Linked DNA regions of Homo sapiens. The protein of the gene in region 3 purifies or fractionates together with the protein of the main gene of each other region. This does not show direct contact. Each region holds a gene or a part of one and is shown on either strand. Other genes may lie near its edges.

What was found.
Region 1: the proteins of SQSTM1 (region 3) and NIPSNAP2 purify together in Homo sapiens (affinity purification with mass spectrometry; 4 studies listed by BioGRID and IntAct, with this or other methods). This does not show direct contact.
Region 2: the proteins of SQSTM1 (region 3) and CASP8 purify together in Homo sapiens (affinity purification with western blotting; 5 studies listed by BioGRID and IntAct, with this or other methods). This does not show direct contact.
Region 4: the proteins of SQSTM1 (region 3) and NTRK1 purify together in Homo sapiens (affinity purification with western blotting; 6 studies listed by BioGRID and IntAct, with this or other methods). This does not show direct contact.

The regions. Positions count from the first base shown.
Region 1 is NC_000007.14:55,967,585-55,971,084, forward strand, and holds part of NIPSNAP2 (protein NipSnap homolog 2), read left to right. Parts: intron 1-3,500. UniProt on the Homo sapiens protein: Protein involved in mitophagy by facilitating recruitment of the autophagy machinery required for clearance of damaged mitochondria.
Region 2 is NC_000002.12:201,263,536-201,267,035, forward strand, and holds part of CASP8 (caspase-8 isoform 2 precursor), read left to right. Parts: intron 1-2,925; coding exon of another isoform or gene 2,926-2,951; coding exon 2,952-3,256; intron 3,257-3,500. UniProt on the Homo sapiens protein: Thiol protease that plays a key role in programmed cell death by acting as a molecular switch for apoptosis, necroptosis and pyroptosis, and is required to prevent tissue damage during embryonic development and adulthood.
Region 3 is NC_000005.10:179,827,405-179,830,904, forward strand, and holds part of SQSTM1 (sequestosome-1), read left to right. Parts: intron 1-3,500. UniProt on the Homo sapiens protein: Molecular adapter required for selective macroautophagy (aggrephagy) by acting as a bridge between polyubiquitinated proteins and autophagosomes.
Region 4 is NC_000001.11:156,859,542-156,863,664, forward strand, and holds the start of NTRK1 (high affinity nerve growth factor receptor isoform 2 precursor), read left to right. Parts: upstream 1-1,323; 5' UTR 1,324-1,393; coding exon 1,394-1,605; intron 1,606-4,123. UniProt on the Homo sapiens protein: Receptor tyrosine kinase involved in the development and the maturation of the central and peripheral nervous systems through regulation of proliferation, differentiation and survival of sympathetic and nervous neurons.

The sequences.
Region 1 (3,500 bases), on a different chromosome or scaffold from region 3:
GCCTCCCAAGTAGCTGGGACTACAGGCCCACACCACCATGCCCAGCTATTATTTATTTATTTATTTATTTATTTATTTATTTGAGACAGAGTGTCACTCTGTTGCCCAGGCTGGAGTTCAGTGGCGTGATCTCGGCTCCCTGCAACCTCCACCTCCTGGGTTCAAGCAGTTCTCCTGTCTCAGCTACCTGAACAGCTGGGACTTACAGGCGTGCACCACCACGCCTGGATAATTTTTGTATTTTTAGTAGAGATGGGGTTTCTCCATGTTGCCCAGGCTGGTCTCAAACTCCTGGCCTCAAGTGATCCTCCCACCACGGCCTCCCAAAGTGCTGGCATTACAGGGATGAATCACCACACCCGGCTGCTAATTTTTAATTTTTTTGTAGAGAGGGGGGTCTTGCTATGTTCCCCAGGCTAGTCTCAAACTCCTGGCCTCAAGCAGTCCTCCCACCCTCCGCCTCCCAAAGTTCTAGGATTATAGGTGTGAGCCATTGTGCCCAGCCACACGTCTAAAGAATTCTAAGCGGACATTTTCCTAGTAGAAAGATCTCTATGACACAAACCTTGACTGGTTCCTAATCCCTCCTCCCTGTCTGCCCCCATTCCCCTACCCACAAGAGCAATGAAAGACATTTTGGGGAGAACTGGGGATATTTTAATAGGGAGTGGATATTAGATATGATGGAATAATTGTTTTTCTCAGATGTGATGATAGCATTGTAGTTCTGTCATTGTGTTTTGGAGGTACATGCTGAAGGATTTACGGGAGAAGTATCATTATGTCCAAACTCTACTTTCTTTTTTTTTTTTTTTTCCTGAGACAGAGTCTCGCTCTGTCACCCAGGCCGGAGTGCAGTGGGGTGATCTCGGCTCGCTGCAACCTCTGCCTCCCGGGTTCAAGTGATTCTCCTGTCTCAGCCTCCCGATTAGCTGGGACTACAGGCGTGCGCCACCACAACCAGCTAATTTTTTTGTATTTTTAATAGAGATGGGGTTTCACCATTTGGCCAGGATGGTCTCGATCTCCTGACCTCGTGATCTGCCCGCCTTGGCCTGCTTTGGTCTCCCAAAGTGGTGGGATTATAGGCGTGAGCCACTGCCCCCAGCCCAAAACTCTACTTTCAAATGGTTCAGTAGAAATTAAAAAGCAAATATAGGGCCGGGTGTGGTGGTTCACACCTGTAATCCTAGCACTGTAGGAGGCCAAGGCTCACGGATCACATGAGGCCAGAAGCTCAAGACCAGCGTGGACAACATGATGAAACCCTGTCTCTACTAAAACTACAACATTTAGCAGGGTAACTACAACATTTAGCAGGGTGTGGTGGTGCAGGGCTGTAGTCCCAGCTATACAGGTGGCTGAAGCAAGGTAATTGCTCGAGCGCAGGAGGTGGAGGCTGAAGTGAGCCGAGATCGCGCCACTGCCCTCCAGCTGACATGAGAGAACAAGGCCCTGTCTGAAAAAAAAAAGAAAAAAAGAAATTAAAAAGCAAATATATATAGAGAAAAACTTTTAATGGTAAAATGTTCATTTTTAAAATCTAGATGCAGGGCAGAAAAGTCTTGTCATGTTTAAACTCCTCTGGGTTTGAAGTTTCTGGAAATGAAAGGTGTGGGAACAGGTCTCTGGAGCAGCAGTGTGGAAGACGGGGTACTGGGGCTGGATGGAGTGTGGTGGTGGGGAGGGGAGTCAGGGAGCTGCTGCTTTAAGGCAGGAGTCTTCTTGGCATGGGTCTGTCAACCTCTTCTCTCCCCCGGGTCTGTGCTTCCAAATGCTGGTGCTGTTTGCACACTTGTGTCTTTGGCCTTCACTGGTTCTGCTTAGAATCTCCCTTCCATGGGTATCTACCTGACCATCTGCTCCTCTTCTTTCCAGTCTTCCACTCAACAGGTACTTCGTTAGAGCAGGCCCCCAGGCTGCCCTTACCCATGCCACAACAGCTACCTACTTCCTTGTGTCATCATTGAAGAGCTTGTCTGTTTGAGTTGTGATCGTGTTTGTCTGTCTGCCCTCACCAGCAAACTGAGCTCCCGTGAAGTCAGGGCCAGGTTCATCTGTGCATCGTCAGTGGCTGACAGGTGTAGTGCACAGTCTGTAAATAACAGTGATCATATTGCCGGGCGCGGTGGCTCACGCCTGTAATCCCAGAACTTTGGGAGGCCAAGGTGGGCGAATCACGAGGTCAGGAGATCGAGACCATCCTGGCTAACATGGTGAAACCCTGTCTCTACTAAAAATACAAAAAATTAGCCGGGCGTGGTGGTGGGCGCCTGTAGTCCCAGCTACTCAGGAGGCTGAGGCAGGAGAATGGCGTGAACCCGGGAGGCGGAACTTGCAGTGAGCCGAGATCCCACCACTGCACTCCAGCCTGGGCGACGGAGCGAGACTCTGTCTCAAAAAAAAAAAAAAAAAAAAGATCATATGAATGAAGCACGGTGTGCTCCTGCTGCCTCATCCTGTGGTCTCAGCGTTAAGTCCTTTCCCTTCTTCAGTTTCCTCTTCCCCGCCTGATCAGCACTCACAAGCTTCTTCTGAATGCACTCCTTTCTCTTCATCCCCACTGCCATCTTAACCCCAGACCATCTAGTGAGTATTTATTGAGTGCCTTCTGCATACCTGGTGCTGCTGGGCATGGCAGCCAGGGTGCCCAGGAAGCATGTTCCTGGCCTTTGTTGCTGCAGCCATATACCACGCTCCTGCCAGGCTGCTTTTGACACTTAGATTTTTTTTTTTTTTTTTGAAACGGAGTCTTGCACTCTTGCCCAGGCTGGAGAGCAGTGGCGTGATCTTGGCTCACTGCAACGTCCGCCTCCCAGGTTCAAGTGATTCTCCTGCCTCAGCCTCCCGAGTAGCTGGGACTACAGGCGTCCACCACCACACCTGGCCATTTTTTTGGTATTTTTTAGTAGAGACAGGGTTTGGCCATGTTGCCCAGGCTGGTCTTGAATTCCTGACCCCAGATGATCCGCCCACCTCGGCCTCTCAAAGTGCTGGGATTACAGGCATGAGGCACTGCGCTTGTCCGACACTTATATTTTTTTTGAAAACTTGACAGCATCTCACCCTACACAGAATAAAGTCGCCCTCGCCTCGCCCTCACGGTCCTCCCACATGCTCTTCTGCCTTGCTAAACAGCTTGCCATTCCAGACATATGCCATTCAGTGTCATGACTCCATGTCCCTGTACATGTTGTTCCCATTGACTGGAATTAGCACCTGCCTTCTCCACCTGTCTTGCTTGCCCTCCAAAACAGAGCCAGAGTGCCCCTACTGGAGTCCCTCCTGCACCTCCCAGGCCAAGCTGATGGTGGGTTCACTTGAGCTCTTGCAGTGTATGTCTAAGTTTACAGCATCTGTGGCCACTCTGGCTGTTTACTGATAGGTTTTTCCTGTGAGACTGAATAGGCTTGGCATCTGGTTTATCTTTGTATCCATAGAGCCCGGCATAGAATGCTGACTTGATTTCAAGTCTAGTGTTTTGTATAGTGCACCCTTCC
Region 2 (3,500 bases), on a different chromosome or scaffold from region 3:
GGGCATTTATATTTGGATGGTGGAATTATACATAATTTTAATTTTCCTTTTTATCTTTTCTGTATTGTCTAAAATGAATACACTAAGCATTGTTATCCTCAGAAAAAAATAATTGAGGGATGGGGGAAAGGAAGTCCTGCTTTCATTTGATTCTTTGGTTGGTTTTATTCTGTAAGATGAGACTTTAACAGAGGTTAGAATGCATTAAAAATTGTAAAGACAGTTGACCTAATGGCACTAAACAGGGTTAGATCTAGTTTAGATCTTTTCCAGCATGTGAATAAGAATGGATCTTTAAATAAAGATTTTAACTAGGTATATGTTTTAGAATAAGTCATACATGTACATGGTAAAAATTCAAACAGTACAAACTGTGCAGCAAGGTATGGGAAATAAAGCAGCTCTCACTGTCACCTCCACCCATCAGCCTTCTCACACTGCACGCCCACATCTGTGTGTAATTCTGCTTTTCTTTAACATTACTGAAGGAACTTCCTGTGCATTTTTTGTCAGAGCTCTTCTGTGAATACACAAAATATGTACTGATCAATACATTATGTAGATCACGCAGGCTCAACCACATTGATCTTCCTATTCTTTCTAGTAGCCAAATAGAGTTCCCTGGAATATGATTAATAGCTTGCCTAAATCTTCTAATGCTGATAAACAGTTGTTTCTGCTCTTTCGTTATTTCAAGGAATGCTACCATGAATAGCCTTATATATGGTTTTGAGTATACTTGTTTAAGTGAATGTAGGAAAAACTCTTGGAAGTTAAATTGTGGGCCAGTTTATGTGAATTTTATATTTTGACAGAGATGGCTAAATTACCCACCTGTTTTTTTGTTTTGTTTTGGTTTTGGTTTTGCTTTTTTTTTTTAAGAGTTGGGGTCTTGCTACCTGGGGTCTTGCCACCTGGGGTCTTGCCCAGGGTAGACCTGAACTCCTGGGCCACGTTGGTTTATTTTACTGCATTCCCAGGGCCTAGAGCAACGATTGACACGTGCTAGCAGTATCTATTGGAAATTCTGGCCAACTTGCAATAGACCTGATTATTTCTACACTGAACATGTCTAAGATAGCTATTACTATTCATTCAGGAAAGCCCAGACAATTATCATGCCAGCAGCCTGAGACAGTAGCCAGTAATAGCCTGGTGTGGTAGTTTGCTCCTGTAGTCTCAGCTACTCAGCAGGCTGAGGTGGGAGGATGGCTCTAGCCTGGGAGGTGGAGGTTGCAATGAGCCAAGATTGCGCCCTGCACTCCAGCCTGGGTGACAGAGTGAGACCCTGTCTCAAAAATAAAAATAAGAATAAAAAATAAACCAGCAAAAGTTTCTGCCCTCACAGAGCTTCCATTCTAGTGAGAGGGTAGTTTGTCATCAGGAGGGTGACGCCGGTAGGGCTGGGGGCCAGCTCCCTGCAGGGAACAAACATGATCGCAGTGGGGTGGGAGTAGGGGATGAGTCCCCAGAGCCTCTGTGGTTTCCATTTCCACACAAAAAAACCACTGCTGCTGTAATCAGGAGGGGGAAAAGATTTTTAAAAATTTTCTTTCAGGGAATGGAAGGAAAGGATATTTTTGAAAGTAAGACTTTGAAAACTAAAAGTTTTGGGTCACTTAAAAACTCAAAATCTTTAGGTCACTTTAAAAATATTTAATCTTGGAGCTGGAGGCCATTATTCTAGGTAATTAGCTGGGTGTGGTGGTGTGTCCCTGTAATCCCAACTACTAGGAGGCCGAGGCAGGAGGATTGCTTGAACCTGGGAGGCGGAGGTTGCAGTGAGCCGAGATCGCGACACTGCACTCCAGCTTGGGTGACAGAGCAAGACTGGGTCTCAAAAGAAAAAAAAAAAACGAAAACTAAATACCGTATGTTCTCACTTAAAAGTGGGAGCTAAGCTATGAGGATGCAAAGACATACAGAGGGATATAATGGACTTTGGGGATTGATGGTGGGGTTGAATGGGAGGTTGGTCCTAATAGGTCCTAGTACGTCCCCTACTTCTAAGTCTTCCAGTCTGTCCTTTGCACTTTGAATGTTAATTCCAAGTTGGATAATGTCATTCTCATTTTTACAGTCCTTTCTTAGCTCCTCATCACCTCCAGGACAAAGCCTAAACCCCTCGCCCCATGGTAATGCGGCCCCTTTGTGACATGGTACCTGGCTAGAGCTTCATCCCTTTGTCCCATCACTCTCCATCCCAGACACTTTGTAGTTACTTTATTGAGCTCCTTGTGCCTGCCTGAATGGACTTGAAAGTTCTTACCTCCATCTTTTACATTAATTGTTTCCTGTAAGAATTGTGCTTTCTCGCATTCTCCCCAAAATCCCTTCCCCATAGGAAGCCCTTCTCCCAGGCTAAGTTAAGGTTTCTTCCTCTACATCCCTACCACACTCTGGTCACAACCCTCTAACCATTGGCTTGTTTTTTTTGTTTTTTGTGTTTTTTTTTTTTTTGTGAGACGGAGTCTTGCCCTGTCACCCAGGCTGGAGTGCAGTGGTGCAATCTCCGCTCACTGCAACCTCCACCTCCTGGGTTCAAGCGATTCTCCTGCCCCAGCCTCCTGAGTAGCTGGGATTACAGGCACGTGCCTCCACACCTGGCTAATTTTTGCACTTTTAGTAGAGACGGGGTTTCACCATGTTAGTCAGGCTGGTCTCAAACTCCTGACCTCGTGATCCGCCTGCCTTGGCCTCCCAAAGTGTTGGGATTAGAGGCGTGAGCCACCGCGCCCAGCCCATTGGCTTGTTTGTATGTCTACCTTCCTAAACAGTAAGAGGGAACTTGTCTGGTGTTCTTTTTTTCTCTCCTGTGCTGACAGCACAATGACCAGTACCTAGTAGTTGCAGTAGCCTTTGATGAACAAGCCAGCAAATGGTACTTTTCTTCCTTATCTGAACATACCATTTATTTTGACTTAGATTATATTCTCCTGCCTTTTAAAAAGATGGACTTCAGCAGAAATCTTTATGATATTGGGGAACAACTGGACAGTGAAGATCTGGCCTCCCTCAAGTTCCTGAGCCTGGACTACATTCCGCAAAGGAAGCAAGAACCCATCAAGGATGCCTTGATGTTATTCCAGAGACTCCAGGAAAAGAGAATGTTGGAGGAAAGCAATCTGTCCTTCCTGAAGGAGCTGCTCTTCCGAATTAATAGACTGGATTTGCTGATTACCTACCTAAACACTAGAAAGGAGGAGATGGAAAGGGAACTTCAGACACCAGGCAGGGCTCAAATTTCTGCCTACAGGTGGGTGGAAACTCCCATTGTGGGACTGGGAGGTGTGGGTTGAATGGACAGCCTCTGAGCTGATTGGGGCTTTTTTTTGTGGTACCCTGCCTAGTGCCTGGGAACCCAGCAGTGCCACAATTCTAAGCTTCTACAGAAAGACAGTAGTGCCTTGGGTGGTCCTGCTAAAGGCTGTAAAACTTAGCTTCTCCCCACCCTAGAGAGAGTGGGTAAACAAAGGCGTGAGAGAGAAACCACATTCAGT
Region 3 (3,500 bases):
CTCCCGAGTAGCTGGGACCACAGGCGCCCACCACCACGCCCGGCTAGTTTTTTGTATTTTTAGTAGAGACGGGGTTTCACCTTGTTGGCCAGGATGGTCTCGATATCCTGACCTCGTGATCCACCCGCCTCAGCCTCCCCAAGTGCTGGGATTACAGGCGTGAGCCACTGCACCCGGCCCTCAGATGTCTTTGAGCACTAAAAGCTAAAGGCTTAAAGTGGATAGAATTGCTTTCTCCGAACTAGGGAGGAGCCTGAAGCTCTACAAACAAGGAATATTTCAGTAAAATAGACTGAGTGGTTTCAGCTGAGGAGAGCCAGTGGAGGAGCGGCTTAGACTGTTGTGGAAGTTAGGGCTAGTTTCTTTCTTTATGAGGAACTATAAGCTGGATGACTCACAGGTTAACTGCCTAGAAGGGACTGTTCCCAGAGCAGGGCCCAAAGGGGAACGAACGAGTCAACAGCTGCCTCCCGGTGGCAGTGTGTGTAGGGTAAGCGGCAGCTTTCATGTGAAGTGCCAAGGCCTTTTGGTTGGGGGGCTGAGAACCTGCTGAGGGAGCCACAACTGAGACCCAGGCTGCTCCTGGCTGGGAGGCTACAGGCCCCGAAGCCACAGGGCCCCTCCTGGTCGTGGGATCTTTGATAAACCGACACGCAGAGGCTTTGTGAGGCAGCAGGGCACGGAGCATCGTCTAGTCTTTTTTTTAAGTGAAAGCACATTTCTTAAGAAAGTAAAGGAATACAAGAATGGCTACTCCGTAGACAAAGTAGCCTGTCCAGTCTTACGACAAGGCCTGAAAATCTCACGCTTTCATCACCAAGTTGGAGAGATCCTAATTCTATAATTTCTCTGATCTGCTTACAGGCGAGTCTCATTACCCATTTACAAAGCATATGGGTATTGATTGTACTATTCTTTCAACTTTTCAACTTTTCTGTTTGTTTCAACCTTTTTTTTTTCTTATCTTTTTTTTTTTTTTTTTTTTTGAGACAGACTTTTGCTCTTGTTGTCCAGGCTGGAGTGCAATGGTGTGATCTTGGCTCACTACAACCTCTGCCTCCCGGGTTCAAGCGATTCTCCTGCCTCAGCCTTTCCCAGTAGCTGGGATTACAGGCATGCACCATCACGCCTGGCTAATTTTGTATTTTTAGTAGAGACGAGGTTTCTCTGTGTTGGTCAGGCTGGTCTCGAACTCCCGACCTCAGGTGATCTGCCCGCCTTGGCCTCCCAAAATGCTGGGATTACAGGCGTGAGCCACTGTACCCGGCAGCTTCAACCTTTTCATAATCACAAGTTGGGAAGAATAAAGGAGAAAAATAATTTAAATATTACAGATGGAGGTACTTGTAGTTAAGCCTGCTTTTACCTCTGCTCCCCCCTTAAACTCTATTGAAATAACAGGAAAGGGCTTACACAAAAAAGAAAACACCATAGACAAAGAAAGTAATAGAGGAAAAGACAAAGATGTGATCAGATTTTGGAAGATGGACATGGAGGGAGGGTGGCAACCTGCTGAGGGAAGCTTCAGAAATCTCTGTGCCAGAACAGGGCATCCTGGTGAGAAGGAAGACCATCTGTTCAGGTACCAGGAAAGGCAAGAGGTGGGAGTGATCGGGGGACAGGAACAAGGGGGGAGGGTTGAAAACCTCTAGGGAGTGTCAGCTAGAGACTTCAGGGCCCACTTGGCCAGATGATGGCTCTTGCCAACAATTGAAGGAGACCTCATGTTTAATTCCAGGAGCACCTGACCCAGGGAAGCTTCAGCATGGGATACTAGAGACAGGCCAGGGTGAGGCACCAGCCTGAAACTGGGCATCCCGAATGAGCAATGGGCCCAGCAGTCAGTTCCCTGGCCAGGCAGGAGGTGGGGAGTCCCTGCTGAGGGAGGTTGAATGCCCCCAGAGAAGTGTCCTACAGCTCCTGCCTGCCAGACCCCCAGGCACCCTGCAGAGGGAAAGTTAGTGATGGCGCTGGCCCCACAGAAGGCTTCCTGTCAACCTTAGTGCTTCAGTGGGATCAGACCCCTGGGTCACCAGCCATCTGAGGAAAGCCCCCACACATGGGAGAAAAGGTCTTAAAGGGAAGAGAATGTTAATGTCCTCAGTGAGATACAAAAGAGCATTGTCTGCATGAAAAAGGAACAGGATACTAGAAAAAGGATAACAAAGGGAACAGAATAAGAAAGTTCTTAAAATTAAAAAATAGAAAAAAAACTTCAAAAGAAGGCTTAGATTCTACTATTGTCTCAAGGAGATATTCCAAAAGCAAAATAGAGATAGTTTTTTTATCTTTCCTCTCCTCCTAATGTAGGAACAAGTCTAGAAGCCCAATATAGGATGAGTAGGAATTCCAGAAAGAATAGAAAACTGAAAGGAGGAAATGAACATAGAATGCAAGATAGTTTCTTGGCACCAGGCATGGTGGCTCATGCCTGTAATCCCAACACTTTGGGAGACCAAGGCAGGCAGATGACTTGAGCTCACGAGTTTGAGACCAGCCTTGGCAACATAGGGAGACACCATCCCCCACTTCCCGTGTCTACAAACACTATGAAAATTAGCCAGGCATGGAGTTGTGTACTTATGGCCCCAGCTACGTGGGAGGCTGAGGTTGGGGATGGCTTGAGCCTGGAAGGCAGAGGGTGCAACGAGCCTGGATTGTACCACTGCACTCCATCCTGGGAGACAGAAACAGACCTTGTCTCAAACAAAACAAAACAAAACAAAACAAAAAACAAAAATGCAAGATAGTTTCTTGGCAATGAGGCCATTATCTTCTAGATTGAAAGCGGCCCTGACAATGACTGAGAAAGACCCCACAGCAAAGCTTATCATTGTCAAGTGTCAGAACCCTGAGGATAAAGAAAGAGGGGCTTCTAAAACTCTAGGTTATTGTAAATACTTGGGAATACAAAGAGCAAACAAACATGAACAGCTAGGAGACAATGGAACAACTGATGACTCCAGAAATCAGTTAAAAAGGCTTTTCGGCCTAGAATTCTTTTGTTTTTGAAACCGGGTCTCACTGTCATCTGGGCTGGAGAGCAGTGGTACAGTTGTCTTCATCTCGTGGGCTCAAGTGATCCTTCTGCTTCAGCCTCCCCAGTAGCTGGGACTACAGGCATGTGCCACTGTGCCTAGATATTTTTTTTTTTCTTTTTCTTTCCCCACCCCCGAGTCAGAGTCTCGCTGTCGCCCAGGCTGGAGTGCAGCGGCGTGATCTCAGCTCACTGCAGTTTCCACCTCCTGGGTTCAAGCAATTTTCTGCCTCAGCCTCCCGAGTAGCTGGGATTACAGGCACCCGCCACCATGCCTGGCTAATTTTTATATTTTTAGTAGAGATGGGGTTTCACCATCTTGGCCAGGCTGGTCTTGAACTCCTGACCTCATGATCTACCTGCCTTCGTCTCCCAAAGTGCTGGGATTACAGGCATGAGCCACTGTGCCCAGCCCCGTGCCCAGCTATTTTAAAATTTTTTTGTAGAGATGGGGTCTTGCCAT
Region 4 (4,123 bases), on a different chromosome or scaffold from region 3:
AGCCTCCTAGGAGGCCTCCTTGTCCTCTTTGGAGACCCCTTAGCGCCAGGCTCCGTCACCGCCTAGTCCCTTGGTTCTGACCAAGATCCCGAGGAAGAAGGCGATCACTGTGTAGGGCTCTGCCTCCGTCTGGTCACCTTCTTGAGCTCAGGCTGCTCGGTCGGTCTGTGTGTCCCTGTCTCGGGGACTTGGGGGGCCATCCGTGCTGGGGCCTTGGCGGAGAGAACCGTGAGCCTCTAGGAGGTCGTCCTTCCCCCGCTCCCTGGGGCCTTGCCTGTCTCCCCGCCAAGAGACACCCCTCTTCCCTTCGCTCTCCCCAGCTTGAGACGGATGGGTTAGTGCAGCCACGGAGGCTTGCGCGGTGGGAGGGGTTGGGACCAGCCTTCTGCTGCCCTGGGTGCTGGGGATCCCGGGGCTTTCCAGGTGCTCGGCCTCCAAGGTGCGCGGTCCTCAGCTCCACCCGCGGGCGGCTCCTGCGTCCGAGGAGCTAAGAGAAGATCTATTAATTTCTTCACGAATAAATCGATGCTCTTGTCAGGGAGGCGATCGATGTCAGCCCTGCCCTGCCTTGCCCTATCCTGCCCCGGGGCCGGCGCTGGCTGGCCGGGGTCAGGGACTGAAGCTGAGACCTGAGGCGTTGCTCACTGGGGGCTGCAGATCGCACCCCCAGGCACCCAGCGCGGGCGGGGAGCTCGCGCCTTTGCGCGCGGGCTTCTCGCGCCACCCTGTGGCTTCTCTTGGAGGCGCGGTCTTGGCTCTCCGGACTCCCTTCGGCCGGATTAGGCGACCCCTTCCCTTTCTCTGCCCCGTCTGTGTCTTCCTCCCCAGGTTCTGCGATTGATCCTTTGGTAGTCCTTTTCGTTTTCTTCCTAGAGTTCGGAGAATGTTCTACCTAACTTACTCCAAGTGACATGCTCACTCCCCTAGGCACGCGCGCCGCGAGGATGGAGCGCTGAGCCTGGGGCTGGCTAGGATGACCTGGACAGCAACCTTTCCTCAACGCAGTCATCTTCCCTCCTCCCCAAATGTAAAAATGCAGCTGCTTTAAGCTGAGAGAAATAACGTATCAGCTTCCCACCTCCGGCCTCAGCAGACACCTCCGAGGCGTTCTGCTGCGGCCCCTCAGCGTCTGCCGGAGCTGAGGCGGATCCTCGGGGAGAAGGCTGACGCTGGGGGCCCCTAACAGGGGAGGGGGCAGAGGGGGGGGCGTCAGAGAGTAGGAAGCGGGTGGAGAAGAGGGGCAAGGCGGGGCCGGGCGGGGGCCGCTGGCTCCGCCCTTTCCTGGCGGCTGGGTCTTTAACACCGCCCAGCGCACATGTCGGGGGAGGCCTGGCAGCTGCAGCTGGGAGCGCACAGACGGCTGCCCCGCCTGAGCGAGGCGGGCGCCGCCGCGATGCTGCGAGGCGGACGGCGCGGGCAGCTTGGCTGGCACAGCTGGGCTGCGGGGCCGGGCAGCCTGCTGGCTTGGCTGATACTGGCATCTGCGGGCGCCGCACCCTGCCCCGATGCCTGCTGCCCCCACGGCTCCTCGGGACTGCGATGCACCCGGGATGGGGCCCTGGATAGCCTCCACCACCTGCCCGGCGCAGAGAACCTGACTGAGCTGTGAGTGTCCGGCGGGCGGTGGGGGGGCGCGGGGACAGGCAGGCATTGCAGTGCCCCGAGGGCGCGGACTCGCTGCTTGTTTGCTGGTCAGGCAGGACGAGCACGGCGGAAGGCTGGCACCACGCAGCCTTCGGCGCTGCCCGGGCGTTCCTCCGCAGCCGCCGCTGCCCTAGCAAGCTTTATGGTCAGTGCCTGGATGTCCCCTAGTGTTCAGGGCAGCTGGGCCGCCGGCTTCAGGGAGATCGAAGGGGGAAATCTCCGTGGACCAGGTCTGAGAGAGCCTAGCCGTCTAGAAGGCGCTTTCTGGAGCTCAGCCAGAAGCCCCTGCTCTGTCCTACAGAGAAGGATGGTTACCAGCAGAGAAGTCCCCAGTTTGTCACCCTTACTGCCTTTTTCCTTTTCTAGGGGCAAGCCAGCCCCCGCCCACTTTCTTGTTATGAGGAGGCAACCCTAGCTTTTCTTCTGGAATTGGGGATTGAGCTGGCTGGCATTGGTGGGAGGCGGTGAGGAGCTGAGTGGTTGAGCTCTCCTCTTTCCATTTTTACCATTCCTTCCCCCAGAACCCGTTGATTTGGATCTGGGAAATGGGACCCCCTCCTGGATTTTCTCTCCCCACTCCCATCTCCCTCTCCAACCTTGTCTCTCTACCTGGGGCGGGGAGTCAGGGCCCTTGCTGAGAGACCCTCCTCCCTTTGGTACACGAAGCTGGGAGGAATCTTCAGCATTCTGCAGGACTCTGACATTCTGCAGGAATTGGTTACAAAATACTCAAGTACTTTTTAGCAGCTGGTGAAACCTATGGGAGTATGCGGTAATGACTGGCCTGGAGGTACTCAGGCATCATATGGTGATGGCTGGAAAATACTTGAATATTACATATGGCTATCATGGCCAGCAAGACATCTAGAAGAGGGGAGAACTGCTAGAAAATCCTCCTCCTGTGGCCTGGGGTTTCGAGGGTGGACAAGGAACCTTGGCCTTGTGCTGTGATGGGCTGGAAGGTATCCGAGGTGAGGATCATCACTGTCTGGAAGTTACTTGAGCAGCTTGCAGTAATTGGCACTGAGTTCCTTGGGTATCTCATGGTAATTAACGGGAAGGCACTCAATCTCTCTCTCTAATAGCTCTAGGGAGACCAGGAGTAGAGGAGATGGCCTTGTCTTGGTCTAGGCCTAGGTCTCTGCATGATGGGAGGGGGCATGAGAGACAGGTTGCCAGTCCTAGTCCAGTTCTCTCATCACCCTGGGCCTTCAGATTGGGGTCCAGACTCCTGAGTGCTCCCCATCAGGGCTCGTGTTTCCCAACTCTTTCCAAGCCCCAAGTGGGTCCAGCAGGGTAGGGATGGGAGTGGTAGGGGGAGTGGACAGGCCAGAACTGGGGACTAGCAAGCATGTAGGGTGGTGAGCTGAGATGTCCCCCTGGGTGGGGCTGCAGCCTGACATCCCCCTCCCCACTGCCTGCACAGCCCCCTCCCTCCTCACTCACCCGCAGAGCTAACGAGGAGATAATGGACTCGAATAGACAGATTGATTATGAATCCAAACGAATGAGGCAGCTTTGAGGCAGCTTTGAGCACGCTGGCCTGACAGCTCCCACACACCCTGCCAGCCCACTGCATTCTCACCCCCTCCCTGGGTCCCTACAGCTTGAAACCCTCTGGGCAGGGGCTGGGGGGTGGGTAGAATAGGGACTTGGCCTCCCTCGGAGTCAGTGGAGGTTACTTTATAGGCCTCTACTAAGTCCACAGGGAAACTTAGGACCTGATCCTGGCTGTCCTGGTGGGGCCAAGGCTGGGAAGGGAGGAAAGGAGGAAGGGAGGGGTCACTTAGGCTGGTCCTGGTTCCTATAAGTTAGGGAAAGTTAGAGGGTAGAGGGGGAGAGTTCTGAGAACCGTCAGTGAGTCAGGGGCCCCTGGCATGTGTATTGTTGGGGTGGGGGGGGCACACTAACATGTCACTACAGGGCAGCCGAGTTCTCAGGAACTCCCTGGTATGTCGGATCCAGCAGCTAGGCAGGCCCCAGGGCGTCAGCTGTCCCCTAGCCCCGAATGCCTACTCATTCTTCTTTCTTTCTTGTCTATCTCGCTTTCTGTAGCTCTCTGTCCTTATCTGTCTGTCTCCCTCCCCTTATCTGTCTTCCTTCTTGCCTGTCACTATCTCTCTGACCTCTTCCTGTCAGTTTCTCTTTCAGTGTCTCTGTTTCACTCTCTCTTTGTTTTTCTGCCCGTCTGCCCCCACCCTCCTCGTTGAGCCTTTCCATCTTTCTGTCTCTCTCTCTCTCTCTCTTGCTGTGTAAGTCAGCCAGTCTGTGCCTCTTCTCCCCTCCTCGACACTCTGACTGCCTCCTCTCATTGCTCCTCTCCTCTTTCCTGGGTCCCTCCTTGGGGTCCCTAACTGATAGCCTGTAAGACTCTTGCTTGATCTGCTGAAAAGATGGTAGGGGAGGTTTCGGTGGAGTAGGGGTTGCTGCTTGGGTGTGAAGAGGGGCCAGAGGCTATGGGGGTGCAGAGATGTTTGTG